Regions from separate parts of the Homo sapiens genome. Here region 2 is linked to region 1. The links come from fine-mapping of genetic effects on gene expression. A gene starts in region 1. The other region holds a variant in brackets. All regions are shown on one strand. Distances are between the middles of the regions. Region 1 holds the start of BICRA (BRD4 interacting chromatin remodeling complex associated protein). Region 2 overlaps DHX34 (DExH-box helicase 34).

What was found. PIP is the estimated chance that this variant, and not a neighbour inherited with it, causes the effect.
Region 2: its variant is the best candidate, but not a certain one, in a credible set for the expression of BICRA in whole blood (INTERVAL, PIP 0.68).

Annotation. Positions count from the first base shown.
Region 1 is chr19:47,606,903-47,611,278 of GRCh38, reverse strand. BICRA (BRD4 interacting chromatin remodeling complex associated protein) reads right to left here and starts at 2,145. Exons shown (of 15, transcript NM_001394372.1): 1 at 2,111-2,145. BICRA-AS2 (BICRA antisense RNA 2) reads left to right here and starts at 2,650. Exons shown (of 1, transcript NR_186352.1): 1 at 2,650-3,406. RefSeq lists silencers at 865-1,124, 1,255-1,304, 1,961-2,030, 2,101-2,150, 2,211-2,260 and 4 more.
Region 2 is chr19:47,377,950-47,382,325 of GRCh38, reverse strand. It overlaps DHX34 (DExH-box helicase 34), which reads right to left. Exons shown (of 17, transcript NM_014681.6): 14 at 2,341-2,616; 15 at 1,334-1,510; 16 at 1,002-1,140; 17 at 1-346. The coding sequence ends at 213. Among named protein-coding and RNA genes, the nearest start is that of DHX34, 31 kb to the right of the region's middle. The variant G/A (reference allele first, on the strand shown) is at 2,487.

The sequences.
Region 1 (4,376 bases):
AAAAAAAATCTGGCCGCTTCTTCTAAATATTATCTACATTTCCGAACCAGGTCCACTGAAGTCAGGGGGACAAAATGCCAAAGGGTGGGACAGAAGAAGGGCTTAACAGTTTTGAGCCAAGCTGGAAAAACTCCAGGAGGTTACAAATTGGGGCTCTGTGTGACCCAGGGCTGTGTGACCCTGGGCAAGCTTCTTAACCTCTCTGAGCCTCCATGAACCTGTCTGGAAAACGGGAATGTCTGTCCCGTCTCTATTTCCTCCTTGGACTGTGGCCAGCGTGTAATGTACTTAGCAGCAGCGGAATAAAGCTCCCTAGTTTGATATTGTTATTAATATTTCCATCTTGAGCGGGGAGCTATGAGGGAAGGCAAGGGAGGTCAACATGTCCCAAAAGTCCTACCAGTGCATGGGAAGGGGGTGCTTCCTGAGTTGTCTTCCCATTTTCTCATGACCCAGGGCAGGTCAGAGTTGACAATACCCCCCACACCCACCCCAGGTGCTGGGAGAGGTTAAAAGCACAGAGAGCTTATCATGAATCTCAGGCCTTGATGCCTTGGATGTTTCTAGTTTCCCTTTCAAGTGCCCTCCGTAAAGAGGTGTAAGAGAAAGGCACCCCTAGATCTGTATTATACTATGGGGTGGGTAGGTAGGTGTGTGTGTGGGGGGGGGGTGACAAAAGGGGACGATGGTCAGGACATGGGCCTGGGCACAGACTGCAGCCCACCAGGATGGGGACACCAGAGAGCTAGGACCTGTCACCTGGGCCTCCCCGGGAGAGCTGACACCGCGGCCTCTGACCCCACCTCCCGGGAAGTTCAGCTGCTCAGAACCACAAAGCAAAACAAAGGGGCGCGGAGAGGAAGAAGCCGCAGTGCCTCCCAATCACCGCCGGCGCCCGAGCCCGAGCCTAGCTCTCCCGCGGCTCCTTGCCCGGTCCTCCCGGCTGGCCGCGCACCAAGGCCCAAGCAGCCCCTGGTCCCTCGTCTCCCCGCGGCCGCCCGTGACAGGAGTCGGGGAAGCAGACGAGGGGCAGCCAGGGATGGGAAAACCAGATGGCTCCATCCCTCCTCCCTCCTCCTCCATCCCTCCCTCCGGGTGCCCGCGGCCTGGCTGCCCTCCGCAGGGGCCCGGGGAGGCCGCAGGCCCAGCTCGTCCGGGCTCACCCCGGGGAAAGGGCTGCCTTTGTCTAAAGGTCACCACCCGAGCGCGGTGCCCCGGCCGGGCCTGGTGCCTCCCGTTCCCAGGCCGAGGGGTAGGAGATGGGGGGCCGCCCCGAACCTCGGGAAGTGACAGGAGGCGCTCACCCCCCCCACCCCCGTAACGGCCCCCTCCGGGATGAGCCTCAGCTGGGGGTGGGGGAGGGGGTCACCTCCCTCTATTGCCGGGGGCTGGGGGTCAAGTCAACTCCTTTCATTGTTTAGGGGCGGTGCGAAGGGGGGAGCCCCGGTGGCCTCCTTCCCCATCCATCCCTCCCCAGCTTTCCAGGGCCCCCCACTGTCCGCGACACCCACGGGAGGGATTTGGGGAGGGGGCGCAGGGGCCGAGCGAGGCGGGGAGATGCAGGCTCTCCGCCTCCGGCCGGGAGATCACCGCCCGCTGCCCGGTGGCCTTCGCCTTCCCCGAAAGGCGGGGAGCGGGGCGAGGGGAGGGGGCCGGGACGGGGAGGGGGTCTCCGCGCCCCTCCCCCCGTGGAACGTTAGGTCTCCTCTCTCCGCCGCTCCATTGTATCCCCGGCAGCCGGCGGGAGGGCCGGGGAGGCACTGGGCGCCGGGTCTGGGCAGGGAAGCCGGTTGGGGGGGGGTCCCCATAGGATCGGGGCGGCGGCGGTGGTGGAAGAGACGCGGGGCTGGGGGTGCCGGTGGCGGTGGGCGCCGAGCAGGAAAAAAAAAAAAAAAAAAAAAAGGAGGCAGCGGGCGCTGCGCCCCGGCTGGGGGGCTGAGTGTGAGAGTGTCGCGGGGGTGGGTTCGGCCCCGGCTCCGGCTCCCCCCACACACACCCTCGCCGCCAACCCCCACTCCCCCCTCGCTTTTGCGCCCTGTCACAGCCCCGACTCGCAGGTAGAGAGAGTTAAGAGATTTAAAGAGAAATTGCTACATTGTGAGAAACTCACCCTGATGTTTGAGCAGCCGTCGGCGCGGGGTCTCCGAGACGGCCCCGCACGGGCTGCAAAGGGAGGACCCAGAAGGGGCCGGCCGGCCGGGCCGGTCAGCGCACTGCCTGATCGCATGGCGGCCGCTCGGCAGCCGCTGCCGGGCCCCCGCCGCCGCCCCGCGCCCAGGCCCGCGCGCCCCGGGCCCGCGCCCGTTCCGGGGAGCGCCCCTCGGGTATGCAAAAAAAAAAAAAATTTTTTTTAATTAAATGCAAACGGAAAAAAAAAAAAAAAAACCTCTCAGGTTTTGTGTTCCGCCCCCCACCCCCTTCCTCCTCCTCCTCCTCCTCCTCTTCCCTCCGCCCTCGCCGGAGGAGGGGCTTCAGGAATCCCCGCCCCGCGTCCGGGCGGACCAGCCCCGGCCCCGCCAGGCCGAGCGGCGGGACCCGGAGCCAATGGGAGGCTGCGGACGTCCGGGGACTGGGCCCTCCGCGCCGGCGCCGCCCCCGCCCCCAGCCCCAGTCCCGGGGGTTCAGGGGCGCGCCTGCTCGAGCTCGGGTGTAGTTTGTCGACTGCCTCGAGCCCTGATCCGGATGCTGGGGCGCGGGGGAGCTGAAGGGATCCGCGCTCCCAGACCGCCGGTCCGGCTGGGGAGGGGGCGCCGTGCGTCCTGGGCGCGTCCCCTGAGGCGGAGGACGGTCGTCCGGCGGGAGGACGCGTCCAGGGGGAGCGCCGCAGGTCCGAAAAGATAGCGGGAGTCGAGGATGAAGGAAATGGAGGGGATGGAGGGGAGTTCCCCCCGGAGGTGGGACCGCGCCGGAGCCCAGAGTTGGAGCCTGACAGGGTGGAAGGCGGCGGGGACTTCGGGGTGACAGGCCGGGACCCCAGGCGTGGCTCGATCACTCACCCTAGCTGGTCTCCGTCGAGCCACGGCGGCGCCGGGGAGGCGGGTCGGGCCTGCCTCGGAGCCTGTCCCCGGCCGCTCTGGCCGCGCTGATGGGATTCCCAGAAGCCCCAGGACGCCGCGGTGGTGTCGGGTCCGTTTCCGCCCCACCAGGCCGTAAACGCCCTGCTGGCGGGACACGGATTCACGCGTTGCCCTTAGCGAGCGCTTGGTGAGCGCCCACTGTGTGCGCTGCGCAGTGCTGGGGGCCCAGTGGGGACACAGAGCCCCCGGACCTGCCCTCCCGATGCTTGCAGCCCAGGGAGATTTATACTTTGTTTTAGTCCCTTCTGCCTCCCCAGTGCCCTAGAAAAGCTCGTGCACACAGTAGGTGAATGCGGGTTGAATAAATGAGTAATCGAGACAGATTGTGATTTTGTTGTTGTTGTGTTATATTTTGTTTTGTTTTGAGACGGAGTTTCGCTCTTTCGCCCAGGCTGGAGTGCAGTGGCACGATCTAGGCTCACCGCAACCTCCGTCCCCTGGGTTCAAGCTATTCTCGGCCTCCCAAAGTGCCCGGCCTCTGTTTTTTTAAGCCTTAACATGTGTTCTAGTATCTTGGCGGTACTACCCATAATATTTACTTCAACGTATTTTTTTTTTTTATAATTTATCGGCCAGGCGCAGTGGCTCACACCTGTAATCCCAACACTTTGGGAGGCCGAGGAGGGTAGATCACCTGAGGTCAGGAGTTCGAGACCAGCCTGGCCAACATGGTGAAACCCCTTCTCTACTAATAATACAAAACTTAGCTGGGTGTGGTGGTGCACGCCTGTAATCCCAGCTGCTTGGGAGGCTGAGGCAGGAGAATCGCTTGAATCCGGAAGGCAGAGGTTGCAGTGAGCCGAGATCACACCATTGCACTCCAGCCTGGGCGACAAGAGGGAAACTCTGTCTCAAAAATAGTAATAATAATAATAATTTATCCAGCCTGGGCAACATAGCGAGACCCTGTCCAAACAAAAATTAGCCCAGCATGGTGGTGTGTGCTTGTACTCCCAGCTACTTGGGAGGCTGAGGCAGGAGGATCGCTTGAGTCCAGGAAGTCGAGGTTGTAGTTCCCCATAGTCATGCCACTGCACTCCAGTCTGGGAGACAGCAAGACCCTGTCTCAAAAAAAAAAAGAAGAAGAAGAAATTAATTTTGAGAGACCACAGAGGGTAAGGGCCCTGACTGAAACCAGTCAGCCCCTGGTTCATATCCTGCCTTTGCCACTTTCTTGCTGTGTGACAGTGGACAAATTACCTCACCTCTGTGTGTCCTCATCTTTAACATGCTGATAATAATAGGCCTCATTTCATAGGGTCATGAGGAAGAATGAGCTAGGGAGAGCTGCACCTGAGA
Region 2 (4,376 bases), 230 kb after region 1:
GGCAGCTGCTGCTTTCTGGATGGGCAGGTGCAGGCCTAACAGTGTGTATCAGCATGTGAGGCTTTATTCACAATCCGTGCTCCAGGCCCTCTGCACTGGGACAGGACCACAGGGCTAAGCCCAGGCTGGGGGTTCAGGCAAGAGTCCTGCCCCTAGTCCTGGGCTGGAGGGCAGGTCAGCTGCACGGAGGTGGGCAGGGCTCCTGGCCCAGCTCACACGTGCTGCTTCCGGTGGCGCAGCACCTCTGTGGGTGTAAAGAGGAAGTCCTTCCCGCAGGCCTCGCAGTGGTAGGGCCTCTGCAGGACAGATGTCTTCTGGAGGGTTTCGAGGGCAGCTTCCTCAGCCCCTAAGGGAGGAAAAGGAGGAGGCTGTGAGGGGCGTGTTCCAGTGCACAGGTCTACCTGCACCCAAATGCCAGGCACCTGTGGGGCTCAGGTTCTCTCCTGGCCTTTGGAGAACCCAGTTTTGCCTCCTCCAGGAAGCCCTCCCAGATTAATAAAAATACACAGGTCTGTCTTTACTCCGCATCCCTGCCAGTGAGAGAGACAGAGAGAAAGACACAAGGAGAGACATGGAGACTGAGAGGCAGACACAGCCAGCCGGGGATGGAGGCATGTGGCCCCAGTGCTATCTCCCCCACTGAACCCCAGTGTGTGGCATCCCTGGGTGACAACAGGGTGGAGGTGACCAAGGCAGAGATAGCTGCAGGACAGAGAAAAATAACAAGAGACATAGCCACAGAGAGACAGAAACAGAGACAAAGACAGCAACACAGAGACACCACAGGGGACAGGCAGACAGAAAGAGGTGGCGCTCCAGGCTCTCCCTGCCTTGGGCTCCTGATCTTCAGGACAAGGCCTGTGTGTGGCACCAGCCAGGGCCAGCGGGTGGAGGTCGTCAGTCCTCGAAGCTCTAGCAAGTGCTCACACGCACAGGAGACCATCATGGGATGGGCAGACGGCTGGGCAGAGGTGGCCGGGTCCCCACAGTCCTGTGCTTACCTGGGGGCCCATCCTGTGGGGCCTGGGGGCAGGTGTTCTCATGGGCGATGCGCTCCAGGGGCGTGAGGGGCGCATGCAGGCCACAGTGGGGGCAGGTCCAGAAGGTTCGGAGACAGTCGCTGTACAGGTCTGTGTCATTCTGTGGCAGGCCAGCTGTCAGGGCTGGGCCCCCGCCAAGTGCCACCCACCACCCAAGTGCCCCCCCGGGACCCTTCCCAGAAGCCCTCAGGGCCACGGGCCCCACTTGGGAACTATGTCCCTGGACTAAGGTGAAACGGGGTGGTGGGGTCTTCCTGAAATCCCACCTTCAGGGAAGGAGGGTTCATGCTTACCGTGAGGCAGTTGTAGGTGAGGAAGTCAGTGACTGCGTAGCCCCCCTTTGTGGGGTGGGGGGACAGGGTGGAGCTGCCAAAGAGGCCAGGAAGATGGGGGGTGGCTGGGATGGTCTGGGGTCCCACATACATGTTCTGGACTTCTAGCCCTGTGAGCCGCCGGAGGCTGTAAGGAATCTAAGGAAGGAGAGACAGGAAATGGAGAGAGACAGACTCAGGGAGATGCCGCCAAAGCACCTGGATCCAGCTGTGCCTGAAGCCCTCCCTCGGGCTTTGCAGTTACGGGAGCCAAGTGCTTACACCAATCACAATTTGGCTGCAGACACACATGACCAGGGGTCTGTCTAGAATATACCTGATAACCCACCCCCATCTAAATTGCCCTCCCCAGGCCCCTCTTCTGCCCCTGTCACTGGTGGGACCCCATTCAGACCTTGAGTCTAACCTTCAAGTCTGGCCACCTCCCCCCTCCTCCTCCTAGCATGTCAGCCTTGGTCCCCTCTCCATGGCTCACTGGGTTCCTGCTCCTTTGTCCTCAAGCCCTTCTACTCCAGGAAGTCAGCCTGGATTGTACCCTTCTCCCCACCCCACCCACATGAAGTAGAACCACGAGCAATTTCCACTCCCCACCTAAGAGTCAGGGGCTGGTTTCAAGTCTGCTCAGTTCAGTTCTTCCCATCCACAAGCAGACGTCTACGGCTTCCCTCTCACACCCTGCCTGTCCTTTACTGTTAGCAAGAGGGGATCAGCCACGCTTGCAGAAGGTGCTTAGTAAACAAGGCAGCAGTGGGTAGTGTGGCCTCTGGAACCAGGCTCCTGGGATCAAATCCTAGCTCCACCCAGACCAGTGGAGTGACCTTGTGTAAGTGACTGAACCTCTGTGGCCTGAAAACCCCCAAATGTGCCCATGTGGAGTGAATGGGAAGCCAGGCCTTCCCGAGGCTCAAGCCCAGTGACGGATGCCCCTTCTGGCCATAGGGAGGCACGGGCACCCTGGTGGAGGGTACCTTGGATGCCGTGAATTGCAGGAGTTCCTTGCTCAGGGTGGCCACCTCCTTGGGGCTGACTGGCGTATCCTCCTCCTCCTCCTCCAGCTGCTGCTGGGCCTGGTGCGCCAGCTGCCGGTCCAGGGCACTTTCCCAGCGGGCACGGA[G/A]CCGCAGGGAAGCCGCCAGGAGTCGGATGGCACTTTCACTGTCTGCTAGCTGCAGCTCCAGCCAGCCATCGGCCACCAGGCGGGAGCAGTCACCATTGGTGTCCAAAGACCGGCTAAAAAGCAGGAGGGACTGAAAGAGAGGGGGCAGAAGACAGGGAGTAGGTGGGAGGGGCAGGGCGCTATTGGAGACAGGCCCTGCCCGGCTGGGCTCCTGCCCACCCACCAGCCCTGTCTATGTGAGGCATCCACCTACCCGCCATCTACCCGCTGTACCAGGCACCCCTTCGGGTGCTGGGGATACGGCATGAACAAGGCAGCCGCTGAGTCAGGGAAGGGGGCTGGGGTGGCGGGGCGGCAGATGGGAGCGTGCTGGGAGAGAGACAGCTGCATTCTCAGGCAGGGTGGCAGAGGGACAGCAGGCACTCAGACACACACGACGTGCAGGGAGAGCCCAGACCCTGAGCACACGCTCCTCTGTGAGGACGGAAGTCAGCGCTGTAATTACCAGTGCTGTGGCTCATAAGATGTTGGGGAAAATCCTCAGGGCTGGGGCCAGGGCAGAGGAAAGGGCAGGACTGGCCATGCGTGGATGGTTTGGGGACCGGGGATGGTACAGGAGGGCTCCATATACTGTTCTGCCTGCTTATGTGAATGTGAAGTTTCTCCATCTTCTTCTTCTTATTATTATTATTATTAATTTATTTATTTATTTGAGATGAGTCTCACTCTGTTGCCCAGGCTGGAATGCAATGGCGCAATCTTGGCTCACTGCAACCTCCACCTCCCAGGTTCAAGCGATTTTCCTGCCTCAGCCTCCCTAGTAGCTGGGATTACAGGCACGCGCCACCCACCCGGCTAATTTTTGTATTTTTAGTAGAGATGGGGTTTCACCACATTGGCTAGGCTGGTCCCAAACTCCTGGCCTCAACTGATCCACACACCTCGGCCTCCCAAAGTGCCGGGATTATAGGCGTGAGCCACCATGCCCGGCTTATTATTTTTTGAGACAGTGTCTCACTCTGTCACCCAGGCTGGAGTGCAGTGTCAACAATCACAGCTCACTGCAGCCTCAATCTCCCAGGCTCAAGCAATCCTCCTGCCTCAGCCTCCCGAGTAGCTGGGATTACAGGCACACAACACCACGCCCAGCTAACTTTTTAAAATTTTTTGTAGAGATAGATAGAGTCTCCCTATGTTGCCCAGGCTGCCTTTGAACTCCTGGGCTCAAACAATCCTCCCACCTCAGCCTCCCAAGGTGCTGGGATTCCAGGTGTGAGCTGGCCAGATTCTCTCAACAAGCAGTCCAGTGCAGGGAGAGAGCGCCTCAGGTAGCAGGTCTGTTCCGCTTCCTGCGGCCCGGCTGGTCGCCAATCCTCTGTCCCTCGGCCTGCGTGCTGCCTGCTTTCCCATGCTCACATGAGCACCTGGCATCACCCTTTTGGTTTGCCGTCTGCCTCTACCATCCTATCTGAGCCCCATGAGGGTGGGGAGTTTGGTTGACATTGACCACAGCTGCACCCCCGGCCCCAGAACACTGAACACTAACAGTGCCTGGCCCACCAGACGGGCTCGAGGGAGGTGTGGACACACACAGAAGTGACTGAGCTGAGCTGGCTTTTGTGGTGTTGGTGGCAATCGCAGTGTCAACAAAACCCTGAGGCTCTAGGAGCCTGCAGGTTCCTCTCTCCCCTCCACGTTCCCTGGGACCCAAGCCGGGGAGTGCTGGTAGTGAGCCAGGAGGCAGGAGGGGGCAGTGTGACCCAGGAGCTCTGGCTTGGCCACCTGCTCGGTGTGTGACTTAGGTGACGTATCCCCGCCCCTGCCTGAGCTTCAGTCCCCTCTATAAAGGGAGACCCACAGGGCTGCGTGAGGACTCCGAGGCCAGGCCTA